3 separate regions of the Homo sapiens genome follow, and regions 1 and 2 are each linked to region 3. The links come from fine-mapping of genetic effects on gene expression. A gene starts in region 3. Each other region holds a variant in brackets. All regions are shown on one strand. Distances are between the middles of the regions. Region 1 overlaps RPN1 (ribophorin I). Region 2 has its middle 32 kb from the start of LINC01565. Region 3 holds the start of RPN1 (ribophorin I).

Region 1 (10,120 bases), 28 kb after region 3:
TTTCTGTCTCACTTTGTTGCCCAGGCTGGAGTGCAGTGGAGCGATCTCAGTTCACTGTAACCTCCCAGGCTGGAGTGCATTGGCGCGATCTCAGCTCATTGCAACCTCCGCCTCCTGGGTTCAAGAGATTCTCCTGCCTCAGCTTCTGGAGTAGCTGGGACTACAGGCATGCACCACTACGCCCAGCTAATTTTTTATTTTTAGTAGAGATGGGGTTTCACTATGTTGGCCAGGCTGGTCTCGAACTCCTGACCTCAGGTGATCCACCCACCTCAGCCTTCCAAAGTGCTGGGATTACAGGAGTGAGCCACCGCGCCCGGCCTGAATTTTTCTAATTATTGTTTACATTGTTCTTGCATGACTTACATGATTTTATTAATACCTTTAGCTTGTTTTGGAATAGCAGGAGCAGTCTCCTGGTTCGTTTTTATGGGCGTCTTGCTGGCATGTTTTCATTTTCTTACAGGGGTGTTCTTGTTTTCATCCCATTTTTCTTATATAACTTAATCTTTTTTTTTTTTTTTTTTGAGATGGAGTCTTGCACTGTTTCCCAGGCTGGAGTACGGTGGCACAATCTCAGCTTACTGCAACCTCCACCTCCTGGGTTCCAGTGATTTTCTTACCTCAGCTTCCCAAGTTGCTGGGATTACAGGCATGTGCCACCACACCTGACTAATTTTTATAGTTTTAGTAGAGATGGGGTTTCACCATGTTGGCCAGGCTGGTCTTGAACTCCTGACCTCAGGTGATCTGCCTGCCTCTGCCTCCCAAAGTACTGGGATTACAGGCATGAGCCACTGTCTGTTGATCATTTTTAATGTGACCTTTCCGAAGGAGGGATGGTTTAGAGTGGCTTTTGTACCTTCCCAGATCTCTGCTATTTTAGTGCAAAAACATGTGGCTTGCTTTCTGAGCTTTCCTCTGTGCGGTTTTTGAGTTCCATTGTCCCTATCATGTTCATTTTTGATTGTGTTGAGCAGTTTCTCCTCACTGTAGGGCACTGTCCCAGAAGGGGAGTTCTGCTCTCAGGGACTAGACTGCTGCAGACTCGTAGACCTTCTGCAGGCCCGTTTCACTCACCATTAGGCAGGGCACAACTGCTCCGAGTTTCAGCCACTCCTCACACTGGCCTGCTGTGCTCTCTAGGGAATCCCGGTTGTGTGTTTTGGGGTTCTGCTGTTCTCAAGCCCATCAGTTGCCCTGTTTCTTCTCTCTGCGTTCTCCTTCACAGACACTGATAACGTGAAGGTCTTGTGGCTGTCGGTGTTTTGACCCCCATCCCTGTCTCTGTGTTGTGGGGTTCAGTAGAGATACTTTGTTGCCTGGTTTTGTTGTAAACATGGTCCGTGGGTTTTTGGTTTTGCTGTCTACTTGCTCTGTCTTTATGTGAGCCCCTGTACTTCTTTCTCTCCTGCCCATTTGATCCGTTTTCCACATCATTGCTTATGCTTGCTTGATCCTTCAGGTGACCAGTATGCACTGAAGATGAGGTTTGTGGACCATGTGTTTGATGAACAAGTGATAGATTCTCTGACTGTGAAGATCATCCTGCCTGAAGGAGCCAAGTGAGTGTGACTGTTCCTCTCCTTTGCACCCGATTTCTCTGGTTGTACCCTTGTGGTACCCTAAGGAGAGCCTATGTTCTAGGGGCACAGTCTTTGTGTCACTTTTCTCTAGATTTACTTTATCAGGGAACATCTACTTGGCCTCTCTTGAGTCACATGTCCACTCTGACTGCCAGAATGAGAGACCCCTTGATTTTCTTCCTGTGGAGAATGTTCCATAGTGGAAGAGTAGTTCCTCATGCAAATCCAGGCTGTGCTGTTTACCAGGAGAAGGGACAGTGGGCCTGGGCAGACAAAAGCAGGACATGTCCCCTGCCCCGTAAGAAGCTCTTATTCATGTGAAGAGAAAGAACATTCAGAACAGCTCGTGAGGCATCTGTTCAAGCCTCCCAGGGATTCACTGGGTAGGATGTACAGGAGAGCTGTGTCAACTTTGTGACTCCAAGGAGTGGGGCCAGTACTGGTGAGAACTTGGGAGTGGAGGATTCAGAGGGACAGTTGTTGCCCCAGCAGACAAGGGCTTTAAAACAAAGGGCTTTCTGGCACTGGCTCCCCTGTCTCAAGAGAGTGGGTGTTCTCCATAGCTGAGAAGGGAGCAGAGTGGAGGAGTGTGAATTTAGTGATCTTGAAAGGCTCCTTAGCCTTGGAATTCTCTGATCCTAAATCTGGTTTATTGATGTAGTTGGTTGGAGGCTATATTTTATTCCCATCTTCTTCCAGGAACATTGAAATTGATAGTCCCTATGAAATCAGCCGTGCCCCAGATGAGCTGCACTACACCTATCTGGACACATTTGGCCGCCCTGTGATTGTTGCCTACAAGAAAAATCTGGTAGAACAGCACATTCAGGACATTGTGGTGAGTGGCTCCACTGTTTGCCTTCCATGGCGTCTTCCCCAGACAGTGGGCTCTGGGGGCCAAGAACTCACCTTCTGTCCCTCCTTGGGCTGGAGTCATTTGAGCTCATGGCGTCTTCTGGTCTTGGGGTGGGGCAGCAGGTCGAGTGGGCCAGCCTGGGTGAGTCTAGGCTCCCATGTCCCTACAGCCCCGATGAAGCCTGTCCTCTTGCTTCTCCCAGGTCCACTACACGTTCAACAAGGTGCTCATGCTGCAGGAGCCCCTGCTGGTGGTGGCGGCCTTCTACATCCTGTTCTTCACCGTTATCATCTATGTTCGGCTGGACTTCTCCATCACCAAGGTACCGTCTCTGCCTTCTTCCTGCTTGTCATTTGTGTCCTTGGTAATATTTCACCAGCTTGAGCACTGATCCTCACAGTGAGCCCAGGGCAGGACGCCATGGCCAAAAGACCCCTGCCTGTGCTCATCCTTGCCGGAAGGGTACTTTGTTTTTGTTGCTTGTGGTCACTAGCACAGGAGGTTAAGTCCCTGCTTCTGTCTTGCTTTGGCTCTGGAGACAGAGTAACTTGGATGCTCAGTTGAGGTAGGAAAAACATGAAAAGATTGGTGCTTATTTAGCTGTTTTGCTTCTTGTTATTCAGTGGAACTTGGAGGTGGAAGTCCCCTCTTAGTCCCCTCTCCCTCCCCACCTCCCCCTTGGTGATTCCTTGTTGGGAGCAGAAACCACTGACCTGGCCCTGTCAGCACCGTTCTCCCCACTCCCACTCTCTGCTCCCTGACAGGCTCCGTGGCTCCTTGGTCCTCCCCAGGCTGCACTGCTGTTATCCTCAGGTCATCCTCTTGCTCTTTTCTTCCTTCCTTCCTCCATTTCTCATTCTCTCATTGTTCCTTAGGGCTCTTGGCTCCATGCCCCAGGGTAGGCACTAGTACCAGGCACTTATTGTAGTCAGGTGGGTGAGGCCTGGTGGAGGAGATGAGCACAGCTGGTGCTTGAGGACTGTGGAATGTGATGACAGGCACAGCGTGTGTTTTTTTTTTTGAGATGGAGTCTCGCTCTGTTGCCATGCTGGAGTGCAGTGG[C/T]GCGATCTCCATTCACTGCAACCTCTGCCTCCCGGGTTCGAGCGATTCTGCCTCAGCCTCCTGTGTAGCTGGGACCACAGGTGCGCACCAAGGGTGTGCTTCTAGTGGGGCAACTTGGGAGGCCCCAAGGCTACCCTGAGGAGGTGACAGGCAAAGAAGGTGGGGAAGGGCATTCAGTTGGAGGGGCTGATGTTTGTGAGACAGCAGGGAGGGGTTTTGGTAGGACCTGTGAGCAAAGATGTTGATCCAGCCGAACTGTGTGGGTCCACTTATATGCAGATTTTTTTCTTTTCGTTTTCTTTTTTTTTTTTCCTGAGACGGAGTCTTGCTCTGTTGCCCAGGCTGGAGTGCAGTGGTGCGCTCTCAGCTTGCTGCAACCTCCGCCTCCTGGGTTCGAGCAATTCTCCTGCCTTGGCCTCTCGAATAGCTGGGACTACAGGTACGTGCCACCACGCCCGGCTAATTTTTTGTATTTTTAGTAGAGACGGGGTTTCACCGTGTTAGGATGGTCTCAATCTCCTGACCTCGTGATCCACCCGCCTCGGCCTCCCAAAGTGCTGGGATTACAGGCATGAGACACCGTGCCTGGTCAGATTTTTATAATCAAATGCAGATAGGAAATACAGTACTCAATACAGTGTTTGAGGGAACTGAAACCAAATATGTGGAGGGCTGACTTTTTGTATACTTGGGTTTCACAGGGCTGACTACAGGACTTGAGTATGTGCAGATAGTCGGAGATGCGGGGGGGCGGGGGCTCGAGGAATAACTGTGTGTGTGTGTGTGTGCGTGTGTGTGTGTGTAATTATTTCTGCTGAATCATTGGAGGTTAAGTTGCAGACGTTGTGCCCCTTTACCCTTGAATAGTTGAGCATGTGTGTAGCCTGAGAGCAAGGGTATTCTCTTACATAATCATAATACAATGATCAAATTCAGGAAATGTAATGTTGCCAAAAATCTGGTAGAACAGCACGTTCAGAACTTTGTGGTGTGTTCTGCCTTCTGTGCCTTCTTCCTCAAAGAATGGGTAATGTAATTGTCCATTAGTTAGTTAATACTATTAACTGGCCAGTTAATTAGTACTGTTGACCAACATCCAGTCCATAATTTTGCTGACTGTCCCCCGATCAATCACAGCTCACTGCAGCCTCAAACTCCTGGGCTCAAGCCATCCTCCCACCTCATCCTCCCAAGTAGTTTGGGACTACAGGAGCATACCATCATGCCCAGCTAATTAAAAAAATGTTTTTTTTCTCGAGACAGAGTCTCACTCTGTTACCCAGGCTGGAGTGCAGTGGCACGATCAGGGCTCACTGCAGCCTCGACCTCCTGGGCTAAAGAGATCCTACCATCTCAGCTCCCTGAGTAGCTGGGACTACAAGCATGCACCACCATGCCCGGCTAATTTTCTGTATTTTTATTAGAGATGGGGTTTTGCCATGTTGGCTAGGCTGGTCTCGAACTCCTGGACTCAAGCAATCTGCCTGCCTCGGCCTTCTACAATGTTGGGATTACAGGTGTGAGCCACTGCACCTGGCCAAAATATTTTTTTGTAGAGACGGAGTCTCATTATGTTACCCAGGCTGGTCTTGAACGCCTGACCTCAAGTGATCCTCCTGCCTCAGCTGCCCAAAGTGTGGGGATTATAGGTGTGACCCACCATTCCTGGTCCTTTCTTTGTGTTTAATAACCTTGACATTTGTGGTGTTGTAGAGACCAGTTTTATAGAATGTCCCTTAATTTTGGTTTATCTAATGTTTCCTGCTGATTAAATGGGCAAGACTGCTGTAATATATATGCAGGGCACACTGACATTATCATCCTTGTTCACATCTATCTGTCTGCCTTACTGGACTGTGAAGTGAAATGTCTGCTTCATCTTTTTTTTTTTTTTTTTGAGATGGAGTTTCGCTCTGTCGCCCAGGCTGGAGTGCAGTGGTGCGATCTCGGCTCACTGCAACCTCCGCCTCCTGGGTTCAGGTGATTCTCCTGCCTCAGCCTCCTGAGTAGCTGAGATTACAGGTGCCTGCCACCATGCCCGGCTAATTTTTTTTTCTATTTTTAGTAGAGATGGGATGTCACCATATTGGTCAGGCTGGTCTTGAACTCCTGACCTCGTGATCTGCCCACCTTGGCCTCCCAAAGTGCTGGGATTACAGGCGTGAGCCACCAGGCCCGGCTGGTCTGCTCATCTTTATGGCCCTAGTTTTGCCCATTGCTGAACCTGGTCCAGATTAGGTATCAGTAGGGGTTTGACTTTGACTTTCCAAGAAGGTGGCATTTCATTTTTGGATGGCTGCTGGTGGCAGATGTTCTTTGGGAGATAAGGTCAGAGTGGACCCAAGCCTGGATGTTGTCACACATGGTGCCTCTCCTTCCTTCAGGATCCAGCCGCAGAAGCCAGGATGAAGGTAGCCTGCATCACAGAGCAGGTCTTGACCCTGGTCAACAAGAGAATAGGCCTTTACCGTCACTTTGACGAGACCGTCAATAGGTACAAGCAATCCCGGGACATCTCCACCCTCAACAGTGGCAAGAAGAGCCTGGAGACTGAACACAAGGCCTTGACCAGTGAGATTGCACTGCTGCAGTCCAGGCTGAAGACAGAGGGCTCTGATCTGTGCGACAGAGTAAGTGTCGGGCGTCACAGAGTTGCTTGGCTTGGGGCCCTCCATGCCTCACTGCTTTGTCTAGGGCAGACACTGGGCAGCTCTCTTGCTTACCTGCATGCTTGTGGGATAAGACTGCATCTGGCCATAACTTTTCATGTGGTGCCAGTCCTTGTGGAGGAAAAAGGGATTTTTGGGGTCCTGGTGTGAGCTGGGTGTGGAGGAAGCTCTGCTAGCCTCGTCAGCACTGCGTGCCCTTGTGGCCAGTATTGAGAGTAGCTGCATCCTCTCCTGGAGGCCAGACTGTTCTAGGTCCCAGGCTGCTTATGTTGTGGTAAAATGAACCTAGACTTTAGAATCAATAGGTTTGAATCCAGGCTCTGATTCAGAGTTTGTAAACCTGGCCAAGTCACCTAACTTCTGTGCCTCAGTTTCCTCATCTATAAAATGGGAATGCTGTTAGCCCCTCATAGGGGTTCTGAGTGTGAAATGAGTTAATGCATGCAAAATATTCAGAACCCTGTCCTGATACAAGCTATGTAAAGGAGTTATCTGTAAATGAGGACAGTAACCTTTTCGCAGAGGTGCCCCTCAGAGTCACTGACTCCCCTGTCCACTCCCTGGCATTCCCTCTCCTCACTCTGTGTGAATTTCCTCATAGCACCTACCACTTTTTTTGTTGTTTGTTTTTGAGACAGGGTTTCACTCTGTCGCCCATGCTGGAGTGTAGTGGCGCAATCTCTGCTCACTGCAAGCCCCACCTCCAGGCTCAAGCGATCCTTCCACCTCAAGTAGCTGGGATCACAGGTGCACACCACCATGCCTGGCTAATTTTTTGTAGAGATGGGGTTTCGCCATGTTGCCCAGGCTGGTCTTGAACTCCTGAGCCCAAGTGTTCTGCCTGCCTTGGCCTCCAAAGTACTGGAATTACAGATGTGAGCCACCGTGTCTGGCCCACGCCTACCACTTTCTGAAACGATTTATTCTTCTACTTAAGTGTTAATTATATGTCAGCATCTGTGGACAAGATCCCTTATCTGTCCTTAGTGCTGTTTTCTGGAACCTAGAATTGTGCCGCGCGCCATGGCTCACTAAACATTTGTTGAATGTTGAATGAATGTGACTATACCAGTCCTCAATGTGACGTACAGTAGGTGACAATGCCTGTCACCCCCCCTTCCCTTGCCATTGATCTTTTGCCTAATTGAATCCCTGGAACTGATTTGACAAGCTGCAAGGAGAGAAGTGATGTTCATAGAGGAGCTGCTATGTGCCAGGGGCATGATAGGTGCTGCCAAGTAGTTTCATACTCAGTCCTCAGAGTCCTAGAATGGAGATGAGGCCCAGGGATGGTGCAGGGCTTGTTCACAAGGGCGTAAGAACGGGGCTTGTGGGTGGTGAAGTTGGCATTTGAAGCCAGGCCTATCTTCCTCCATAGCCAGCCCTGCTGCCCTGGGACACTGTGCTGTTGGCTGCATTTGTGGCTGATACCTGTGGAGCTCTGGGGTCTGTAGGCCTGGGAGATGGTGGGGCCTGCTGAGTGGGGTGGGAGGACAGCTCACAAGTCCTGCCCTGCTCTTGCCTCGGCCAGGTGAGCGAAATGCAGAAGCTGGATGCACAGGTCAAGGAGCTGGTGCTGAAGTCGGCGGTGGAGGCTGAGCGCCTGGTGGCTGGCAAGCTCAAGAAAGACACGTACATTGAGAATGAGAAGCTCATCTCAGGAAAGCGCCAGGAGCTGGTCACCAAGATCGACCACATCCTGGATGCCCTGTAGCCCCTGCCCGCATCCTCCAGGGGGCCCAGGGTGCCTGCACTTTGCTGTGGCAGGCAGATTGGGTGGTAGTGGGAGGTTGTGCATGGAGGCCAGTGAAAGCTGACATCTGTAAAAGGCCTTCAAGGAAGAGAAACCAGGCCCTGCGTCAGGCAGTGTGAGTTTGCCGTTTGTCCTTAACTTTCTTTTTTTTTTTTTTTAAAAAAAGAAAACTTTAAAAAAACTCCCATTAAAAACAAAACATCTTTGTGTTTTGAACAAAGGAATTTTCAATATTTGATTGGTATTCTGTTCTGAAGTCTAAGATATTTTTCAGCCTATAAAGCCCCCTGTTTTATGCCCTTCTAATTCTGATGTTTGGGTATTGTGTGAGTGCATGTGTTTTTTTTTTTTTTTTTAAAGCGTGTGTGAACAAATGGAAATAAAGCAGGGACTGTGAACATTTGTTTTTGGTCTGTTGAAGATCTCTCATAATTTAATTCTTAATTTTGGGAATAGTGCTTTTATCAAGTGCTTTTTATTCATTAAATAATGGATTTGCTTCTCAGCAGGTTTGCAAGGCAAGCATTTACATTTTACATATTAGAACACTGAGTTATTCTAGTACCAGAGTGTTGAAAGTGGTGCCAGAGTGTTGAAAGAGTTGACGTGGCTTATGTCACAGAATGGAGTAGTGGAGTGAGGCCTCCATTTTTGTAGTTTTTGCATCCTTCCTGTGAGTCATGTTTTACTCAGCATCAAGGAAACAGTGATGAGCAAAGCAGAGATGGTTCCTCTCAAGAGGCAAGGGATTGAAAGGTCATGTGGGGAATCGACAGTGCCAGTGAGTGCCAGGCTTTCTGCCCCTCTTTCCTCTCTGCAGGAGTTCGCTCCCTGTCTCCACCTAATGAATTCCTGCTCAGCCTCAGGATGTGTTACTTAAGGTTACTGTGTCAGGGAGCCATCCGTGGCCTGCCACACTCAGTCAAGTCCTGTGGTACCCTCTCGTTTTCCTTTGTACCTCTTCTCCACCTCATATACCACGGTTGGAATGTGTGTGATTACTGAACTAGCTTCAATAGGGCAGGGGTTTTGTCTTTTATGCTCATCTTTATGTTAACAGCTAGGTGTTCAGACCAATCTATGACACGTAGTTGGGTTATTGAATGTTTGCATGAGTGGCTTACAAACAGCTTAAATATTGGCAGGTGGGTTGAGGGATTACTGGGGAAGTCTGTAGAAGACCAGTTGTGAGGAACTGATGCTGAATTCTGTTTCAGACATGGCAAAATGGAGGTGCTCGGGACATCCAAGTGGGAGTGTCCCTGGGCAGGTGGATATTCAGGCCTGGAATTATAAGGTCTGGTGTGCAAGTGGTAAATGTGGGGCTGCCGGGCCTAGACATGGTTATGGAAAAGGTGAGAAGGAGGCTGTGGGAGGGGACAGTGCCTAGGAAGGGTATAGAATAAGAAGAGATCCAGAACTGAATATTAAGACGACAAAGTAATAGTGGCCACCTGGGTTGACAAAGACCAGGACTCTCCTTACCTGGGACGAGAAAGACCAGGACTGTGGTGTCATGAAGCCAAGTGGAAAAATGTTTCCAGGAGTGAACCATCTGAGGCTGAAGAGACCGAGCAGTGCCTTTTGGCTGTAGGAGTGGATCACTGAAGCCTTTTACCCATTGGTGACTTGAGAACTGTGTTGGTGTGGGGATGGGAATTGGACGGAAGTGAGACTTAACTTTGAGTCCTGACAAAGCATTTCGCAAACAGGCTGGGAAAGGGATGAGTGAGGGCCTTCAGGAGGCTGTGCTGCTTGAATGTTCTACTCTAAGGTTGGGGACACCAAGTGTGTTGAATGCCATTGGGAAAGATCCAGTTGAAAATGAGAAGTTGAACATAGGGATTAGGAGATTGTGCAGGGGGAAAATGGGGGATCCAAGGACAGTGGAAGGATGGGAGGAGCAAGAAGGAAGACCCTCCAGAGTCGTGCTCTGCAGTCGGATCCCTGGATGGAAATCCCAGGCCTGCCGCTCTCTGTGACCTCAGGCAAGTCTTTCCGTGCAAAATGGAGTAGGGCTGTTACCTGCTTCCTAGGATGGCTGTGTGGGTCACATGCTGTCATAATGCAAGGTGGCGTATAGCAAATGCTTGTTAAACAGCGACGGTCTCGCCGAGCTCTGGCCTGAGCCGGGGGCAGAGGGTTGGTCCTGTCCTGGGGGTTGGAAGCCGTGGAGGCCACGTTTAATCAGTGT
Region 2 (10,300 bases), 43 kb after region 3:
ACATGCCAGATACGTGCACTCGCCATGTCCCTGGCCCTGGGGATACAGTCGGGAGTGGGCAGAGTCCCCGCCACAGGGACCTTGTGCAGCCCACAGAGATGCCTGCAGAGTGGAAATGATAAGGAGCCCGTTCACGCTCTGCCAGGTGCGGCTCTGGCTGCCACTGTCACCAGTGAGGGAACTTGCACAGCATGTGAGCCTGGCGTGCCGGTCTCAGAGCCTGTGTTCTCGCCTTCTGCACTACCCATCCTTTCTCACAGACTCTCCCCTTCATGCACAAGTGCACAGACTCCCAGAGGCATGCAGAGGCACACAGGCTGCTCTGGGGCACACGTGCGTGCAGAAACACTCTGCGTGGTGTGCTCACACGGTGAGTGCACCCTGCCGCTCTGTGCTACCACGCGCTGCTGCTCTGGAGAGCACCTGTCTGTTTTCTTTAAAAAAATTTAAATATAGGCTAGGTGTGGTGGCTCACGCCTGTAATCCCAGCACTTTGAGAGGACCAGGCGGGCGGATCACGAGGTCAGGAGATCGAAACCATCCTGGCTAACATGGTGAAACCCTGTCTCTACTAAAAATACAAAAATTAGTGGGCGTGGTGGCATGCGCCTATAGTCCCAGCTACTTGGGAGGCTGAGGCAGGAGAATCGATTGAACGCAGGAGGTGGAGGTTGCAGCGAGCTGAGATTGCACCACTGCACTCCAGCCTGGGCGACAGAGCGAGACTCTGGAAAAAAAAAGAAAAAAAATTATATACATATTTTTTAAATAGTAGAAATGGGGTCTTGCTATATCGTCCAGGCTGGTCTTGAACTCCTGGGCTTAAGCGATCCACCCACCTCAGCCTCTCAAAGTGCTGGAATTACAGGCATGAGCCACCACACTGGCCACCTGTCACGTTCCTAAGTCTCAGCTCCAGGTCCTGTCACTCTCCCCTCTGCCTCTTGGGGCCTGGCTTGAAGCCCTGAGGCCTGCCCACTTTCCTGACCACTTCTCTCCATCAGGATGGGGCCCCAGGCCTGGAGCTTGTGCATGGCACAAAGGCCTGGAGGAGAGGGAGTGGGGTCCAGGCACACAGGGAGTGCATGTTGGATGGACATGGACGAAGGCATGGCCACCCACCACCAGCACCCGCAGCTCTACCCGAGAGCCCAGGGTTTCCCTCTCCACCAGTAGAGAGGTGTGGCCTGCAGCTGGTCCACTGGGCCAGGTGCTGGGAGCCCTGGGGGAGCAGGACCAGAGGATGGGGTGGGGGGATTTGTCAGAGATGGAGGCTGACCTGAGGAGGAGATCCTTCTGAATCTGACAGGGCTAGAGAGGGGTGATTTGGGGAGGGAGGCTTGGGCTGGAGGAATCCATACACACTCGGGGTGAGGGGGAAGGAGAGGCGTTAGCTCCAGGAAGGTGTTATTTTGGGCTGTGACCCATGTGTGTGTGTGTCTGTGTGTCTCTGTGTATGCATGTGTGTGTCTGTGTATATGTATATGTGTGTGTCCTTGCACATGTCATGTGGCTGTGCAAGTGCATGTGTGTGTGCATGCATGTGTGTGTGTGTTGTGTGTGGTGGGAGGCAGCCTGGGGCTGTCAGAAGAGGGCAGAAGGTGGGATCAGGCCTAGCTGGACCTGAACCCTGCTTGTGCCAGCTGGGTAACTTTGAGGCAAGTCATTTAAGTTCTTTCTGCCTGTTTCCCCATTCAAAGAATGGACCAAATATTACTTACGTTGTGAAGATGACAAATATGTGTGTAAAATCCAGGCACACACGATGTGCTTAGGACACAGCAGTTATGATTTATTTGTGTGTTGTCTTTGTGGAGTGGGGGGAGGATTTGCAGCCTTTTAAGGACTTGGGAATTTCAGGTCTTGACAGAGCCAGTCTGGAAGGCCCATCTGGTGTGGCTGCTCTGAGGGACTGGGGACATTGCCCCCGTGTTTACAGAGACCCATAGTCAGACATCCATGGGCCAGGCACAGAGGCAACACAGCAGTCCTGCCCGCAGGGCCCCCAGTGGACAGGCAGAGGCGCAGATAATACAGTGGCTGTCCCAGGGTCCACAGCTGGGTGTGGGGGGCTTGAGGGTTAGAATTGGCCGGGCCCTATGCGGGGCATTTGATTCTAGTTCGTTCTATTTTTATCTTTTTCATCAGATCAGGGCACCATGCCCTCTGGGCTCGCTGCGTCTTCCTGCTTCCCAGCCCCAATTTCCCTCCCCTTTCCTACCTCCAGCGCATCTTGTGTGAGACGCATGGGGACAGGTGTGTGTACACCCTGGGGAATGTGTGGTGGGTTTTCATTTATCTGTGTCCATGTCGATCAAGAGCACATGCTCATGCTGCCTGTCTTAGTCTGTTCAGGTTGTGATAACAAATAACAACAATCGGGGTACTTAGAACAACACACATTCCTTTTTCACAGTTCAGGAGGGTGGTAACTCCAAGATGAGAGTGGCAGCAGGGGCGGGCTCTGCAGAGGGCTGTCTTCCGGGATGCAGCCTGCCGGTGTCCTCACTGTGTCCTCGCAGGCAGAAGTTGGCGTGCCGAGCCAGTGCTCTGCTATCAGGGCTTGGAGCCCAATTATGAGCACTCCTCCTTCATGGCCTAGTCACCCCCAAAAGGCCCCACATCCTGATACCATCACTATGGAATTAGGACATCAACAGGTACATTTTGGGGGGATAAATGCATTCAGACCATGGCACTGGTTTCAGTTGTCATGTAAGTCACCACTCATATATCAAGGCTAACTCATGACCCTAGATCTACATGGGGTCTGCCCTCTACCTCACAGCAGAGATGGACACCCACACCACCATCTTCCCCGTGTCTCACCACCTGCACCCCAATTACGGACACCTATGCCTCTGTCTTCCCTGCGTCTCTCAGCACTCTACAGCGAGTGACACACACACCTTCATCTTTCTTCCATGCTTCATGTTGCAGTGGAGAGGCTGGGGATTGGGAGGAGGTGCTGCTGGGGTATGGGGAGTGAGATCTGTGCCGCAGTGGGGTGGGATTCAGGAGAAAACCAGGCAGTGTCCCACCAGTTCACTTGCTTGTAACACAGAAACCTCTTCAATGGAAATGGAACCCTGTCTAGAATGCCAGACTCTCTGCTGACCATTCTCTCTGGTCAGAACTGGATCACTTTATTTGATGTAAATTGTATTTGATTTATTTTTTTCTTTTTTAAGAGATGAAGTCTCACTATGCTGCCCAGGCTGGTCTCAAACTCCTGGGCTCGAGTGGCCCTTCCGCCTCAGCGTCCCAAAGTGCTGGGATTACACGTGTGAGCCACAGCACTGGCCATAAATTGTATTTGATTTTTACAGCTACCTGTATTTAGCCATGTGAAAGTGATTTTCCACTTATGTCAGAGATACAAAGTTTCGTTTAGGGATAAATTGTAAAAAAGAATATAGGCCTGGGTGGTGGCTCATGCTTTTAATTCCCATACTCAGCTTGAGTACCGGAACCAAGACTAGTCGAGGCAACATAGTGAACCTCATTTCTTTAAAAAAAAAAAAAAGAAAAATGGCTTGAGCAGAGTGGAGCTGGATTAGCTGGAAGCTCCACCTCGCAGAGGCCGGGAGCCGGTGGCCAGGGTTGGGTTGCTGGATTTGACGCCACCTGGCTGTGTGACTGTGGAAAGGTGCTCAGCTGCTCTGAGCCTCCATTTTCCATTCATAAAACGGGGTCATATTAATTTCTAACAAGAGCGTGGTTGTTGGTGTGATCCTCAAATAAGCTGACAGCGGTCAGGTGGTGCCCATGGTCAGTACTGTGTAGGCCTGGCGTTAGGATGTGAATATGAACACGGGTGATAGGTGCGTCCTGCACATGCTGCAAGGTGGACCTGAATGCTGGCAAAACACTGATCTAGTTCAGCTCATGTTTCAGAGGGGAAATGGTCCCTTTTGCCTCATGCCACACTCCCCTGGCCACAGTGGAACCCAGTGGCTATTAAGGGGCTGTCTGGGGTCAGTCCTAATGGGTGGCTTTAGAGTCAGACGGGTCTCTGAGCCTCAGGGCCTCATCCATAGCATGAGATAACCCCTTTGGGAGGCTGAGGGAGGTGGATCATGAGGTTAGGAGTTCGAGACCAGCCTGACCAACATGGTGAAACCTCTACTAAAAATACAAAAATTAGCGTGGTGGTGCCTACCTGTAATCCCAGCTACTCAGGAGGCTGAGGCAGGAGAGTCGCTTGAACCTGGGAGGCGGAGGTTGCAGTGAGCCGAGATCGCGCTGCTGCACTCCAGCCTGGGCGACAGAGAGAGACTCCGTCCCCCCCGCCCCCAAAAAAAAGAATGAGATAACCCCATGCTCGGGGGGTGGTCATGGGACTATACCTGCAGAGCACACAGCAGGCGCTCCATAAATGCTGGAGTCATAACACCCCATGTCCCATGTGCCAGCTGCCCAGCAGCAAGTCTGGCCTCCTCCTCCGGTTCTCGGCCCTGAACAAAGTCACCGCTCCAGCGACAGCTCCTTGGCAAAGTGGGGCTCTGGGCCCTGGCGAGAGCGCGGCTGTCCTGCCCCACGCCTGCGAGGCCGGCAGGGATTGGAACCCGCGGCCGCCAGAGGGCGCCCCCGCCTAGGCCACGCGCACCTCCCGGCTGGCAGAGGGGCCGGTCCTCAGCGCGGTGGCAGCCTGGGCGCCCGCCCGCCACTACTGGGCTGTGTGTCACCCTGCCTGCCTCAGTTTCCTCGGCTGTGGCGTGGGATTCTCCCCGGGATCGCCTCGCAGGGCTGCTGAGAGGCTCGATGAACGCCAGCGGTTGTTGCGGCGCTGCTGTTCCAAGCCGGGGGTGACGGGAACCCACGTCCTCACGCCCTGGCTGCTCCCGGCTGCCCCGCGGGCCGGCAGCTTCCCGTTCAGGAAACTCAGCCTCGGGAAGGGCGGAGAAAGGTCCCGCGGCTGCGAGGAGCCCAGCGGGGCTTGGCGCCTGATGACCGGCTCCGGAACGGGCTGTTACCCCGCGTATCTCGGTCTCTGCAGCGGCCAAAGTCGCCCGCTGACCTGGAGCACCTGCAGGCCCTGGGCAGAGGACCCGGGGCCATTCCCGCAGCCCTGGCCTGGGAGCTCCGGCTTCTAGTGGTGGCTCCGGGTCAGGTCCTGTGGGGTCCCAGGGACATTCCCAGGCCGAGGTTCCTGTTCAGAGGCCACCCTTTGGCACCAGAGCCATCCAGCGCGGCCTGCGATTCAGGGCCAGAGGAAACAGCAGACACTGAGTGGCTGTCTGGCCCCAGCTTTGCAGAGCCTTTGCTTAGCCGGGAGTGTGGATGCCCGTTGGAGAGCCATGGCTTTTCCCAGCCTGTGTGGCAGCGTTGGGTGGGGCGGCCCCTCTCCTGGGCTGACCCTGAGCAAGGCAATGAGGACCGGTGCAAACTCCTCACAGCCTGTGGGCAGTTCATTAGCTGTGGTTCTCAGGTGCTTCTCATACACACTCTCAGTAGGGCACAACTTCCACGCTTCCATTTACTTATTTAGAAATGTGGTTTGGCTATGTTGGTCAGAGTGGCCTCAAACTCCTGGGCTCAAGCCATCCTCCTGCCTCGGCCTTCTGAGTAGCTGGGACTACAGGCGTGCGCCATTACGCCCTGCTACACATCCCTGCTTTAGCAGGTGAGCGAACGGGGCATGGATAGGGCAAATTCAAGGCTTCACGCCAAGTAATTGGGAGAACCTGGACTTGAACCTAGGTCTTCACCCCTCCCTGACATCAGGGAGATGGCCTTCCTGGAGCTGCAGCCAGATCCCACTGTCCCTGGCATTGTGCTGTGTCCATGCCTGTGCTACACTCCCTACCCTAACCCCCGTCTCACTCCGATTCTCCCCTCCTTCAAGGCTTAACACCTCCACAAATGCCACAAAACCTTCCCCAGTGATCCCCACAGCTACTGGTGTCCTGGGTCTTCGAAGTGTTCCTTCTTGTCTGCCTGGAAAAACTCCTATTCATTCTCTTTTTTTT[TG/G]AGATGGAGTCTGGCTCTGTAGCCCAGGCTGGAGTGCAGTGGCACGATCTCGGCTAACTGCAAGCTCCACCTCCTGGGTTCACACCATTCTCCTGCCTCAGCCTCCCGAGTAGCTGGGACTACAGGCACCCGCCACCACGCCCGGCTAATTTTTTGTGTTTTTAGTAGAGACGGGGTTTCACCGTGTTAGCCAGGATGGTCTCGATCTCCTGACCTCGTGATCTGCCTGCCTCGGCCTCCCAAAGTGCTGGGATTACAGGTGTGAGCCCCCGCGCCCCGCTGAAAAACTCCTATTCATTCTCTAAAACCCACCCCCAGGGTTACTCCTGGGAAAGCTTAAGTGCTACTTTCCTTCTCCCTCTCATAGACATGGTTACTGCCTTGCTGGGGTCTCTGTGCACTGGGGTTACAATGTTGTGATGGTATCACCACATCTGTTTATATCCAGATTCATTACAAAATGTTTCTGTGTTTTAAAAATTGTAAAAGTGGTATGGGCCTATAGTCCCAGCTACTTGGGAGGCTGAGGAGGGAGGATCGCTCTAGCTCAGGAGTCTGAGGCAAGCCTGGGTGACGTAGCAAGACCCTGTTTGTAACAACAAAGAGAGATTTTAAAAATTGTAAAAGGCCAGGCGTGGTGGCTCATGCCTGTAATCCGAGCACTTTGGGAAGCTGAGGTGGGCAGATCGCTCAAGCTCAGGAGTTCGAGGCCAGCCTGCCGAACATGATGAAACCCCATCTGTACTAAAAATGTAAAAATTAGCTGGGCACGGAGTCGAGTACTTGTAGTCTCAGCTACTCAGGGGACTGAAGTGGGAGGATTACTTGAGCCTAGGAGGTTGAGGTTGCAGTGAGCTGAGATCACACCACTGCACTCCAGCCTGAGTGACAGAGTGAGCCCTTATCTCAAAAAAAAAAAAAAAAAAATCCCAATTGTAAGAGTTAACACATGCTCATACTAAGGATCCAGACAGATCAGAAGGGTATACAGAGGCAAGCAGAATCTCCGGCTTCCTACCAGCTTCTCTTCCAGAGAAACACAGTGTTAGCAATTTCTTGTGAATTCCTCTGGAAAGTCTCCATTCATTTACAGGATGTCACACTATATTGCTTTAATTATCCTTCTCTGTCCACTGCTCCATACCTAGTTCCCTGAGGACTGGCTAGGATCTGACTTAGGTAGGTGCTGGAATCAGTCCTGGGCCGGGCTGGAAAAGATGATCAGAAAATTTTGCATGGGATAGTTTTATTCCCTCCTGACACCAACTGACCAGATAGCATGGGATCTGGTGAACCTCCTTGCTCCTAATTGGAGGCTGCCATCTCCTAGCTGGCAGATGTATTTTCTTTTCCTTATAGAATATTATTATCATTACTGAAAGATGAATTCATTTTCAACATTTAAAACCTGAGAGATATTACTTAAAAAATATAATTTTCCCATCTGGCACAGAGGTTCATGCCTATAATCCCAGACCTTTGGGAGGCCGAGGTGGGAGGATCGCTTGAGCCCAGGAGTTCAGCCTGGCCAACAGAGGGAGACCTCATCTCTACAAAAAATTTTAATAATTAGCCAGGCATGCGGTATATGCCTGTAGTTCCAGCTATTTGTGAGGCCAAGGTGCAATTGCTTGAGCCCAGGAGGTCGAGGTTACAGTGAGCTATGTTTGTACCACTGCACTCTAGCCTGGGCAACAGAGCAAAACCGCCTCTTAAAAAAAAAAAAAAGAACAGTAGAATTTTCCAGATCTCTTGAAAAGGTTCAGAGGGTTCAACTGAGCACTCAGGTCTGTGCAGCCTCACCTCACTCCTTGTCCCCGAACCCCGGGGCCCCTAAGCCTGTGTCCCATGTCCTTGGCAACCTAATGAGGAAGATGGACCTGCATGAAAATAGTCCATGACAAGTGACTGCAGCAGCTGAGTTTCCCAGCAGAGGTGGGAGAATGATTGAGACGGACCCCAGGCTGGGGACTCTGCAGAAGCGTGAACCCCAGTGCTGTCCTGTGGGACACATACTCCTCCCGGTCCATGGGGTTCACACTCTGGATCCTCACTGTTCTGTTCACTGCAGAGAGGAGCAGGGGTGGGAAGTGGGTGGGCCTGTTTCAGGGTGGCCCCTGCTCAGCTCCAGGCATAGGGCCACGAAGGAATGTGGGCTCAGAGTGGCCAGAGCTTCCAAAGCAAAGCTGGAAATACAGCCTGAAAGAATGGACTTAAAGAAAATAAAAACCTGGTAACCCATGCAGCAAGCTCCGTATGCCAGTGGCCCTCAGTTTATGTCTCTGATTTGCTGGTACCCTCATTGCTTTAGAGAAAAGTTTCCCCCACCTAAGAAATAGGAAGTTCCTAATGGCAGAACCCAGGACAGCCCTTTCAATGGCTGCATTTTGCTTTATAGAAAACCCACCAGGCTGCCCCTGAGCTTCTGGTTGTCCCATGAGGAGAGGGAACTTCACTGGCCTGAGCCTGTCGACCGTGTGTGGTCCTGAATATGATGACCCCAGAGCAACCCCCAGCCTCCTCCTGCAGTCCTGCTGTGCTCTGCCAAGTCCAGTCCTGCCTGGCTGCAGAAACACAGGGACACTCTGCAGCACTGAGAGAAGTGCTCGCCAAGGAGAAACACATGTCTTCCTCCAGGGAAGCCACCTTGGGGGCTGGCAGGGCCAGGGACTGGAGCGCAGGGTTCTGGGCCAGGAGGTTTGGAGTCAGCTCTGGCTTTGGGGAGCTTCCAGGCTGAGGAGGCTCAGCAGGCAGCAGCTCCCTCCCACCCTCCTGCACAGCCAGGACCTGCCTGGGCATCAGACTGGCCCATGATACAAGCCTGCCTTCACACCTTGGCCTCTTCCCCCTCCAGGTGTCCAGAGCCCGGCTGGCGCAGGTGGGGCAGCCAGGCTGAGGCCGCAGGGCAAGGCCGGGCTGAGCTGTCCTTTTGCCTCTCTCCGGGTGAGGCCTCCTCTGTCCTTCCTTTCCCAGTGCCCCCCCGCCCTGCTCCTCTGCGGGGGTACAGCATGGGGAGGTTGTTGACAATTTGTGCATTAATCTCTCTGCCGGGGGCCTCCTGGTCAGGTGGTGCTTATCAGGGCCCTGCTCCTGTCAGATGGGCCTTCCGGAGCCCGTGGGCGAGGGGGGGTGGCAGAAGCCCCTGCTGCAGGGCCTGGAGGCTGCCTCACCATCCCCAGGCCTTCACATCCCCTTGCGCCCCCGCGGGCAGCCTGCTTTACCACATCAGGATACAGAACATTGCATGAATTCCGGTCTCAATGGAATTATTTCAGAATTCTGGTCAACCGCAAGCTCAGGGTATTTCACAAACTATCTATCACTGCTGTGCGGTGGGCAGAGTCTGGGCAGGGGGCAAGTAACGGATGCAGGGAGGCCCCGTCCACTGCCTGTGGGGGTGGCATGTCCCCCCCAGTGGCACCCCTGCCTCTGCAGACAGATGGCGTGTCCCCTGCCCCCCATCAGCAGGGGAGCTCAGGCCTGGAGTGGGGGCTTAGGAGAGGCAGCGGGAGGCCAGGCCCTGGCTTTGAGGGTACCTTCGAGAGGGCACCCAGGTTTGGGGCCCACTCCTACCAGCGTGGGGCCTTGGCAGGTGCTTGGAGTCTCAGTTGTTCCAGCTGTAAAATGGGATCATGATGCCCAGCCCCCATTAAGCAAATGTTCAGAGATCGGCAAGATGCGTGCCCTTGCCGATTCTCTTAGCATTTCAGGATTACTACAGGGCAGCATCTATGAAGTGCCTGGCTGAAAGTGGGTGCTCCATGACTGGGAGCTGTACCGTAATGAGAGCAATACTATGAATCATTCTCCTGATAACACCTCCCCACCCCTCTATACTTGAGATCATGCATAGAACTTGGGGGAAGGAGAGACCCTACCTCCAGGGTGGCAGACATCTGCACACTACCCGTCCTCTACTGTGGCGAAGGTGGCAACATCTCCAAGGAGCTCCTTCCTTCAATCATGGACGGTGCCTCAGAATCCTCCTCATCACAGTGCTGGACATCATTACCGACCCCTCAGAGTAGGCGCCAGAGGAAGCCGCTTAATTATTCTGGCCCCAACTCGTGAGAGTGGTCTGAATTGGCAGGGCAAGGGGTCCCCCCTCTGCTTCCTAAACTTTCCTGGAAGCTCCAGGTCCTTTCTCCAGAACCTGGCCCCAGCCACCTTTCCCAGAGGCAGGGATTGGAGGGCCAATCTCGTCTCTCCCTCTGCAGGCCTCCTGCTGACCATGAGTGATTAGGCCCCGCACTGGGAGGAAGGAGATCCGGGCCCCCAGGCTGGCACAGGCTCCAGTTCCCACAAGGGTCTAGGACTCCAGGCCGTC
Region 3 (10,186 bases):
GACCTCGTGATCCGCTTGCCTCAGCCTCCCAAGGTGCTGGGATTACAGGTGCGAACCACTGTGCCTGGCTGAGTTTTGACTAATATAGATAATAACAGAAATTTGGAGTGTGAAGGAACTGTTCTGAACATTCTTCCATGTGCATTTGGTGGGCTCAGTATTTTTGTTTCCTGTGATATCTGGTTAGTTCTATATTTCCAAAATTAGGGAATAAGGAGGTTTCGCTAATCTGCTGATGTGCAGTGTGGTATTTCTCACGTTTACTTGACTATGTGGAAACACTTTTCTAGAGCTTTTTACTGAGACTTGCAACACCCCAGTCACTCTGGAAGTCATCAATGGGGAAGAAATGGAGGGAACCTTGGTGTTCTCCTTTCCCACAAGGAAAATCAGGTGCACATACAACCTATGAGGAGACATGGAGGTAAGAAGGATTAATATTTGAAGAGTCGGTTATTTTGTAGAATTTTCTTCAATTTTGGTTTGTCTGATTTTATCTATTTTTTTTATTATTACTATTTTTTTGAGATGGAGTCTTGCTCTGTCACCCAGGCTGGAGTGCAGTGGCATGATCTTGGCTCACTGCAACTTCTGTCTCCTGGGTTCAAATGATTCTCCGGCCTCAACCTCCCAGGTAGCTGGAATTACAGGTGTGTGCCACCATACCTGGCTAATTTTTTGTATTTTTAGTAGACACGGGGTTTCACCATGTTGGCCTGGCTGGTCTTGAACTCCTGACCTCAGGTGATCTGCCTGCCACAGCCTCCCAAAGTTTTGGGATTACAGGCGTGAGCCATGGCGTCCGGCCTTCTTTTTTCTTTTTTTTTTTTTTTTGAGACAAAGTCTCACTTTGTCATCCAGGGTGGAGTGCAGTGTCATGATCACAGCTCACTGCAGCTACAACCTCCCAGGCCCAAGTGATCCTCCCACTTCAGCCTCTTGAGTAGCTGGGACTACAGGGGCATGCCACCACACTAGGCTAATTTAAAATATTTTTTGTAAAGATAGAATGTTGCTATGTTGTCCAGACTGGTCTCAAACTCCTTGGGGTCAAGCAATCCTCCTGCCTTGGCCTTCCAAAGTGCTGTGATTACAAGCATGAGCCACCATGCCCAGCCTTGTTTTGTTTTTTGAGACAGGGTCTTGCTGTCACCCAGGCTGAAGCGGCATGAACATAGCTTACTGAAGCCTTGATCTCCGGGGCTCCAGTGATCCTCCTGCTTCAGCCTCTCAAGTAGCGGAGACTACAGGTGTCAGAGGCATGTGAACGACAACAACTCCATCCTGAATAGGAACTGGGTAAAACGAGGTTGAAACCTGTGAGCTGCATTCCCATACAGTTAAGGCATTTTAAGTCACAGCGTGTTGGGAATTGGTGGGTTCTTGGTCTCACTGACTTCAAGAATGAAACCGCAGACCCTTGCGGTGAGTGTTACAGTTCTTAAAGGTGGCGTGTCTGGAGTTTGCTCCTTCTGATGTTTGGATGTGTTCGGAGTTTCTTCCTTCTGGTGGGGTTCGTGGTCTCGCTGGCTCGGGAGTGAAGCGGAGGACCTTCGCGGTGAGTGTTAACAGCTCTTAAGGAGGCGCGTCTGGAGTTGTTCGTTCCTCCCGGTAGGTTTGTGGTCTCGCTGGCTTCAGGAGTGAAGCTGCAGACCTTCGTGGTGTGTGTTACAGCTCATAAAGGCAGCGTGGACCCAAAGAGTGAACAGCAGCAAGATTTATTGCCAAGAGCGAAAGAACAAACTCTCCAGTGTGGAAGGAGACCCCAGCGGGTTGCCACTGCTGGCTCTGGCAGCCTGCCTTTATTTTCTTATCTGGCCCTACCCACATCCTGCTGATTGGTTCATTTTACAGAGAGGGGAGAGGTCTGTTTTGACAGTGTGCTGATTGGTGTCTTTATAATCCCTGAGCTAGACACAAAGGTTCTCCACGTCCCCACTAGATTAGCTAGATACAGAGTGTCCACACAAAGGTTCTCCAAGTCCCCACCAGAGTAGTTAGATACAGAGTGTCAACTGGTGCATTCACAAACCCTGAGCTAGACACAGGGTGCTGATTGGTGTGTTTACAAACCTTGAGCTAGATACAGACTGCCGATTGGTGTATTTACAATCCCTTAGCTAGACATAAAGATTCTCCAAGTCCCCAACAGTCTCAGGAGCCCAGCTGGCTTCACCCAGTGAATCCTGCACCCGGGCGGCAGGGGGAGCTGCCTGCCAGTCCCCGGCCGTGCGCCCGCACTCCTCAGCCCTTGCGTGGTCGATGGGACTGGGCGCCTTGGAGCAGGGGGCGGCGCTCGTCGGGGAGGCTGGGGCCGCACAGCAGCCCACGGAGGAGGGGGAGGCTCAGGCATGGCGGGCTGCAGGTCCCGAGCCCTGCCCTGCGGGGAGGCAGCTAAGGCCCGGCGAGAAATCGAGTGCAGCGCCCGTGGGCCGGCACTGCTGGGGGACCCAGCACACCCTCCGCAGCCGCTGGCCGGGGTGCTAAGCCCCTCATTGCCCAGGGCTGGCAGGGCCGGCCGGCCGGCCGCTCCGAGTGCGGGGCCCGCCAAGCCCAGGCCCACCCAGAACTCCAGCTGGCCCGCAAGCGCCGTGCGCAGCCTCGGTTCCCGCTCGCGCCTCTCCCTCCACACCTCCCTGCAAGCTGAAGGAGCCGGCTCCGGCCTTGGCCAGCCCAGAAGGGGGCTCCCACAGTGCAGCGGTGGGCTGAAGGGCTCCTCAAGCGCGGCCAGAGTGGGCGCCAAGGCCGAGGAGGCGCCGAGAGCGAGGGAGGGCGCACGCTGTCACCTCTCAACAGGATGAGATAGAAGGTCGGCACAAAATACTGGTCATAAAGACCTTACTGATAAAACAGGTTGCGGTAAAGGAGCCGGCCAAAACCCACCAAAACCAAAATGGCAATGAGTCCTCACTACTACACTCCCACCAGCGCCATGACAGTTTGCAAATGCCATGGCAACATCAGGAAGTTATCCTATATGGTCTAAAAAGGGGAGGCATGAATAATCCACCCCTTGTATAGCATATCATCAAGAAATAACCATAAAGATGGGCAACCAGCAGTCCTCGGGCTGCTCTGTCAATGGAGTAGCCATTCTTTTATTCTTTTACTTTCTTAATAAACTTGCTGGCTGGGGGCGGTGGCTCATGCCTGTAATCCCAGCACTTTGGGAGGCTGAGGCAGGTGGGTCACGAGGTCAGGAGTGCAAGACCAGCCTGGCCAAGATGTTGAAACCCCGTCTCTACTAAAAATACAAAAATTAGCCGGGCGTGGTGGCGGGCGCCTGTAATCGCAGCTACTTGGGAGGCTAAGGCAGAGAATTGCTTGAACCCGGGAGGCACAGGTTGCTGTGAGCCAAGACTGCGCCACTGCAATCCAGCCTGGGCAACAGAGCGAGACTCCATCTCAAATAAATAAATAAATAAAATAAAAAATAATAAACTTGCTTTCACTTTGCACTGCGGACTCATCCTGAATTCTTTCTTGCGTGAGATCCAGGAACCCTCTCTTGGGGTCAGGATCCAGACCCCTTTCCTGTAACACAGGCACTTGTCACCAGGCCCGGCTGATTTTTGATTTTTTGTAGAGATGGGGTTTTACCCTGTTGCCCGGTCTAGTTTTGAACTCCTTGGCTCAAGGGATCCTCCCTACTTGGCCTCCCAAAGTGCTGGGATTGGTGGCATGAGCCACTGTGCCTGGCCTTGTCTGATATTTATGACTAGATTGAGGTAATGGATTTTCAATAATTTTGTGGCAATACCACAGAAGTGATGTGCCTTTCTCAATGGATCCTATTAGTAGATACCTAATGTTACTATATTTTATATGTGGTGATGTTAACTTTGATCACTTGTTTAAAGTGGTGCCTGCCAGGATTCTCCACTGTAAACTATTTTTTCCTTTGTAATTACTAAACATTTTATTTTTATTTTTTAATTTCCTTTTGAGAGGGAGTCTCGCCCAGTCGCCCAGGCTGGAGTGCAGTGGCACGATCTTGGCTCACTGCATCTCCTGCCTCCCGGGTTCAAATGATTCTGGTACCTCAGCCTCTGGAGTAGCTGGGATTACAGGCACGCACCACCACACCCGGCTAATTTTATTTTATTTATTTATTTATTTATTTTGAGAAGGAGTCTCACCCTGTCGCCTAGGCTGGAGTGCAATGGCGCGATCTTAGCTCACTGCAACCTCCGCCTCCCAGGTTCAAGCGATTCTCCTGCCTCAGCCACCCCAAGTAGCTGGAATTACAGGCGCCTGCCACCACGCCCGGCTAATTTTTTGTATCTTTAGTATAGACGGGGTTTCACCATGTTGGCCAGGCTGGTCTCGAACTCCTGACCTCAGGTGATCCACCCGCCTCGGCCTCCTAAAGCGCTGGAATTACAGGCGTGAGTCACCGTGCCCGGCCTAATTACTAAACATTTTAGTAGAGATGTTTTGAAACTTTGCATATATCCTGTTTCGGCTTCAAGTTCTGCCTACTAATTTTAGCATTCATCCGTGGATGTTGGGGAAGGCCAACTTTTACTTTCTCAATCTGAGCAAAATTTCACTGTTTTAAGGAGCAAAACGAGCAGAATTATTGGACAGGAAGAATGGTAGGAGAGAGTAGAGACCTAGGCAAGGGCCGCTCCTGTAAAAATTAGGTAAGTGAAAACTAGTAATAATAAGTACACTCGCGGCTGGGCGCAGTGGCTCACGCTTGTAATCCAGCACTTCGGGAGGCCGAGGTGGGCGGATCACGAGGTCAGGAGATGGAGGCCACAGTGAAACCCCATCTCTACTAAAAATATAAAAAAAAATTAGCCGGGCGTGGTGGCGGGCGCCTGTAGTCCCAGCCACCCGGGAGGCTGAGGCAGGAGAATGGTGTGAACCCGGGAGGCGGAGCTTGCAGTGAGCTGAGATCGTGCCACTGCACTCCAGCCTGGGCGACAGAGCGAGACTCCGTCTCAAAAAAAAAAAAAAAAAAAAAAAAAAAAAAAAAAAAAAGTAAGTACACTCGCACTACGAACAGAAGGATATCCCGAGCAGCTCTGAGAGGGCTTTAGCAATCAGGCGCCGGGTCGGCTTCCCGGTTGCCCCGGAGACAGGGTCCTTCCTTGTTCGGCGCCGCCATCTTGTGTCACCAGCCCTTGCCCAATGAACGGCTGCTCAGTGGCGGGAGGGCGGGCTACCGCGCCCGGGCCCTACCCGCCCTGGCGCACTGCTCTTCCCGGTCATGGAGGCGCCAGCCGCCGGCTTGTTTCTGCTCCTGTTGCTTGGGACTTGGGCCCCGGCGCCGGGCAGCGCCTCCTCCGAGGCACCGCCGCTGATCAATGAGGACGTGAAGCGCACAGTGGACCTAAGCAGCCACCTGGCTAAGGTGACGGCCGAGGTGGTCCTGGCGCACCTGGGCGGCGGCTCCACGTCCCGAGCTACCTCTTTCCTGCTGGCTTTGGAGCCTGAGCTCGAGGCCCGGCTGGCGCACCTGGGCGTGCAGGTGAGTGTGGGCGACCCCTCGCCGCCGCTCCCGGGACCCTTCCCGCCTCCCTTCCTGGCGGTCCCCCGACTCCGCCCGCGCCCCTCTAGGCCTCAGGAAATGCGGAGACCCGGGCGGCGGGCGGGGCACAGGGGGTCCGTGGGATTGCCTCGGGGCCCGCGAGGAGTCCTGGGTGGCCAGGGGCCCCGGCGCCTCCGCTGCCCCCGGTGCGCGCCCGCCCTCCTGCCTGGGCCACGTCAGCACCGGCCTGCCCCCGCGCGGGTCGCTGCTCACGTGGGCAGCTGCTGGGATCCGCGGCCGACCAGCCTCGGAGCTTGCCCCTGTTTGGGCCGTTCTCGGCACCGCTCGGGAGACCTCGGGCCGGTAGAACGCACCTCCCTTCCGTAAGGCGAGCGCGGCAGCCCCTCGGCCCGGTGCCAGCGGGCGCCAGACTTCATTTCTCACGGCCCGACGAGGTGGCTCAAGTAGAGGACAAATAAATGAATTAAAGTGAATTTCATTCTCTTAATTCAGTATCTGGTCCGTTGTAGGTGCTTCTTTCTAGACATAGAGAACCATCAGAAATGTAACAGGTTTCGCATTTTTAAGTTGGTAATCACTTGAAATCCCTATGAATGTGATGCATTTTAAGGTTCCTAGTGAACGCTTTCTAAATGTTAAAACTCTTTTTAAAGTTAGTTTTAAAACTCCTGCACGTAATATAAGTTCTCTTATGCTGTACAGAAAAGGAAAGTCCAATTTTCTCCCTTCCCCCTGCTGCTTCTCATTCTTACACCTCGGCAATAAATGGCTGTGTTTGGCTTAAATGTTTCCAGGTATTTCAGTGATCACCAAAGAAAATGTTGGGTTTGGGAGTAAAGGGAATGTACATACACAGAGGTTTGGTTTTTATTACTATTGTTGTTAAACAATTTCATTAAATGATTACCTAATTATTTGTTGAGAGAATAGTCATTATAGTGTCACATTTCTTCTAAGCACACTTCGTTCTCTGACTGAATATGGAGCTATAAAGATGGGTTTATAGAGATTACGTTTCTGAAATGACTCCTATTTTCTTTCATGCGTTGTCCATGATGAAATAAAGTTTTACTCAAAGGCTTGTGGAAAGATAGATCAAAACTTCATGTAAATTTGCCTTGCCATCTTTGAATGTCTTGAATGTTAAATCCCGTTCTTTATAGAAGCCAGTTGTGATTTAATGAGCTTGTTACAGTATAAGTGGACCACAGCAGGAGCTCGGCTATCCTGCCATCATGCCTGCGAGCTAGGTTAATGTACTTATTTTATCTTGTTTTTATTTTTTCTCCCAACTTTATTGAGGTATAATTGGTATACAAAAAACTGCCTATTATTAGTATATTCAAAATACGTATACACTGGTGTAACCATTACCACAATCCGGGTAATAAACATATCTGTCACCTCCAGAAGTTTCCTTTTGTCCTTTAGTTTGTTTGTTTCTGTGGTAAGATACTTTCTTACTGGGACTCTACTGTGTGTCAGATATTATGGTGGGTATTTTAAATATATTCTCATTTAGCCCTCATAGCAACCATTTAAGGTATAAATCCTCATATAGCAGGCAAGGAGGCTGTAGTCTGTCAGGTTAAGTTATTTAGCCCCTTACATGCGGTCTTACAGTGCAGAGTAAGTCAGGGCTCCAGCTTATTCCGTAAGTTGTGTGTTCTCACACTGTATAATGTTGCCTCTTCTGGCTTTTATGGCTGTGAGATAGGATTGTATTGGGTATAAGACTTGCAGTCACATTAACAGATTTATTTAAAATCATTTTCAATTTTGTAGTCCAAGACACCAGTTAAATGGATATATGTGCTATTTTGTACTCCTATCCCAGTGGGAAACAACTGGATGATAAACTTAACAAGGAGATGTATATTTTCCAACAGTTGTGTTGGAAACTGATGAGGTTGCTGAAATGTTTTTCAGTGGGTTCTTTTCTTTTTCTTTTTTTTTTTGAGACGGAGTTTCACTCTCGTTGCCCATGCTGGAGTGCAATGGCGCTATCTTGGCTCACTGCAACCTCTGCCTCCTGGGTTCAAGCAATTCTCCTGTCTCTCCTCTGGAGTAACTGGGATTACAGGTGCATGCCACCACGCCTGGCTAATTTTTGTATTTTTTTTTTGATGCAGAGTCTTGCTCTGTCGCCAGGCTGGAGTGCGGTGGTGCAATCTCGGCTCACTGCAACCTCTGCCTCCCAGGTTCAAGTGATTCTCCTGCCTCAGCCTCCGGAGTAGCTGGGACTACAGGCGCGTGCTGCCACGCCCAGCTAATTGTTGTATTTTTTTTGTAGAGACAGGGTTTCACGCATGTTGGCCAGGATGGTCTTGATCTCTTGACCTCATGATCCGCCCACCTCGGCCTCCCAAAGTGCTGAGATTACAGGTGTGAGCCACTGCGCCCGGCCAATTTTTGTATTTTTAGTAGAGACAGGGTTTCATCATATTGGTCAGGCTGCTCTCGAACTCCTGACCTCAGGTGATCTACCTGCCTCGGCCTCCCAAAGTGCTGGGATTGCAGGCGTGAGCCACCATTCCTGGCCTTCAGTGGGTTATTTTCAAACCCTTGTAGAATTTTAGGAGCTAGCAGAAGGGACCATGGTGGTTACTGACTAGGAGCCAGTGGTTGCTTCTCTTTTTACCACCAAGGACCCATCTAATGATTTTTCCTCTCTTTTGGATCCTGTATCTGAAATATTTTGGCATGCTAATATTTTATTAAGTAACAATATTTTTCAATAAAACAAATAAGTCTGTATAACTGAACACAATGAGAGTTCCTGATACACACACATATACTAGAATGTTCCTTTTTTTTTTTTTTTTCTTGAGGCAAGTTCTCAATCTGTTCCCCAGGGTAGAGCACAGTGGCCCAGTCAGAGCTCACTGCAGCCTCGAATTTCTGGGCTCAAGCTATCCTCCCACCTAGCCCCCTGAGTAGCTAGGACTACATGTGCGCACCACTACGCCTGGCTAATTAAGAGCAATTTTTTGTTTTTTCAGAGATGGGGTCTTGCTGTGTTGCCCAGGCTGGTCTTCAACACCTAGCCTCAAGCAGTCCTCCCAAAGTGTTGGGATTACAGGTGTGAGCCACTGCACTTGGCCTGGCTGGAATATTCCCACTGTGATAAGATTCTAGTCAAAGTAATGAAACTTGTTTGTATTAGACTGTACAGCTTTATTGAGGATGATTGTATGATTGTTTTTAGGCTTTTTGATATATTTTAAAAGTTCTCCAATACAGCTTTTTGTATCTTACTGGGAATCACTACTTCAGTCCTAAAAGATAGTCTAATTTTTGTTTTTTTCAGTTGAGGGTGGGTTGGCAGAGAGATCAGTGGGATATGTATACCCTTCTCCCTTGCAGTCTGCTCCACAGTCTTATGATTGGAGATAACTACTCTTTCTCAGAAAACCCCTGCAGCCTGCTGGAGTGAACATCCTTTTCCTGGTTATGTATCTTGTTGCTGTGAGGGTACCCCAAACAGTGGTCATTGGCTCCTCCCCAAGGGTATTTTGCCACTGTTAACCATTTTTTTTTTTTTTTGAGAGGAAGTCCCACTCTGTTGCCCAGGCTGGAGTGCAGTGGCACGATCTCAGCTCACTGCAACCTCTGCCTCCCAGGTTCAAGTGATTCTCCTGCCTCAGCCTCCCAAGTAGCTGGCCTTAAAGGTGCCTGCCACCACACCCAGCTAATTTTTTTATTTTTAGTAGAGATGGGGTTTCACCATGTTGGCCAGCTGCTCTCAAACTCCTGACCTCAGGTGATTGGCCTCTCAAAATGCTGGGATTACAGGTGTGAGCCACCGCACCCGGCCAACTTTTTTTTTTATGAGATGGAGTTTCACTCTTGTCGCCCAGGCTGGAGTGCAGTGGCATGGTCATGGCTCACTGCAGCCTCCACCTCCTGGGTTCAAGCAATTCTCCTGCCTCAGCCTCCCAAGTAGCTGGATTACAGGCACCTGCCACCACGCCCAGCTAATTGTTGTATTTTTTAGTAGAGATGAAGTTTCACTATATTGGCCAGGCTGGTCTCGAACTCCTGACCTCAGGTGATCCGCACCCCTCCTCTGCCTGTCAGAGTGCTGGGATTACAGGCGTGAGCCACCATGCCTGCCCAGTTTTAACTTTTATATTAGTGAAGAAACAGTTTTAGGCTGGGCGTGGTATCTCGTGCCTGTAATCTGTGGGAGGATCGCTTGAGCCCAAGAGTTCGAAACCAGTCTGGGCAACATAGGGAGATCTTGTCTCTACAAAAATAAAAACCCATGAGACTTTTTTTTTTTTTTTTTTTTTTGAGACGGAGTCTCACTCTGTCGACCAGGCTGGAGTGCAATGGCACGATCTCAGCTCACTGCAACCTCCGTCTCCCAGATTCACGAAATTCTCCTGCCTCAGCCTCCACACGCCACCACACCCGGCTAATTTTTTGTTTTTTTAGTAGAGATGGGGTTTCACTATATTGGCCAGACTGGTCTTGAACTCCTGACCTCGTGATCCGCCCACCTTGGCCTCCCAAAGTGCTGGGATTACAGGTGTGAGCCACTGCGCCCAGCCCTGAGACTTTTCTATTACATCACTAAATACATTTCTTTGAGTATGCTTATTTGAATGTAAATGAGAAAAGCATCAAGAAAGAGGCCTTTGGGAAGTATATTTGGAAGTGTAATCTTTTTGTGTATGTGTG

The links.
Region 1: its variant is fine-mapped to the expression of RPN1 in whole blood (TOPMed, PIP above 0.99).
Region 2: its variant is fine-mapped to the expression of RPN1 in blood mononuclear cells (TOPMed, PIP 0.94).

Annotation. Positions count from the first base shown.
Region 1 is chr3:128,618,178-128,628,297 of GRCh38, reverse strand. RPN1 (ribophorin I) reads left to right here. Exons shown (of 10, transcript NM_002950.4): 6 at 1,466-1,565; 7 at 2,286-2,424; 8 at 2,645-2,764; 9 at 5,889-6,134; 10 at 7,705-8,329. The coding sequence ends at 7,887. Among named protein-coding and RNA genes, the nearest start is that of RPN1, 28 kb to the left of the region's middle. RefSeq lists enhancers at 10,119-10,120, 9,884-10,120. The variant C/T (reference allele first, on the strand shown) is at 3,505.
Region 2 is chr3:128,602,810-128,613,109 of GRCh38, reverse strand. No RefSeq gene overlaps it. Among named protein-coding and RNA genes, the nearest start is that of LINC01565, 32 kb to the right of the region's middle. RefSeq lists enhancers at 4,303-4,482, 9,803-10,300 and a silencer at 4,493-4,692. The variant TG/G (reference allele first, on the strand shown) is at 5,973.
Region 3 is chr3:128,645,833-128,656,018 of GRCh38, reverse strand. It overlaps RPN1 (ribophorin I), which reads left to right and starts at 5,201. Exons shown (of 10, transcript NM_002950.4): 1 at 5,201-5,479. The coding sequence starts at 5,219. RefSeq lists enhancers at 4,728-4,807, 4,968-5,237, 5,908-5,977, 10,090-10,186 and a silencer at 5,488-5,757.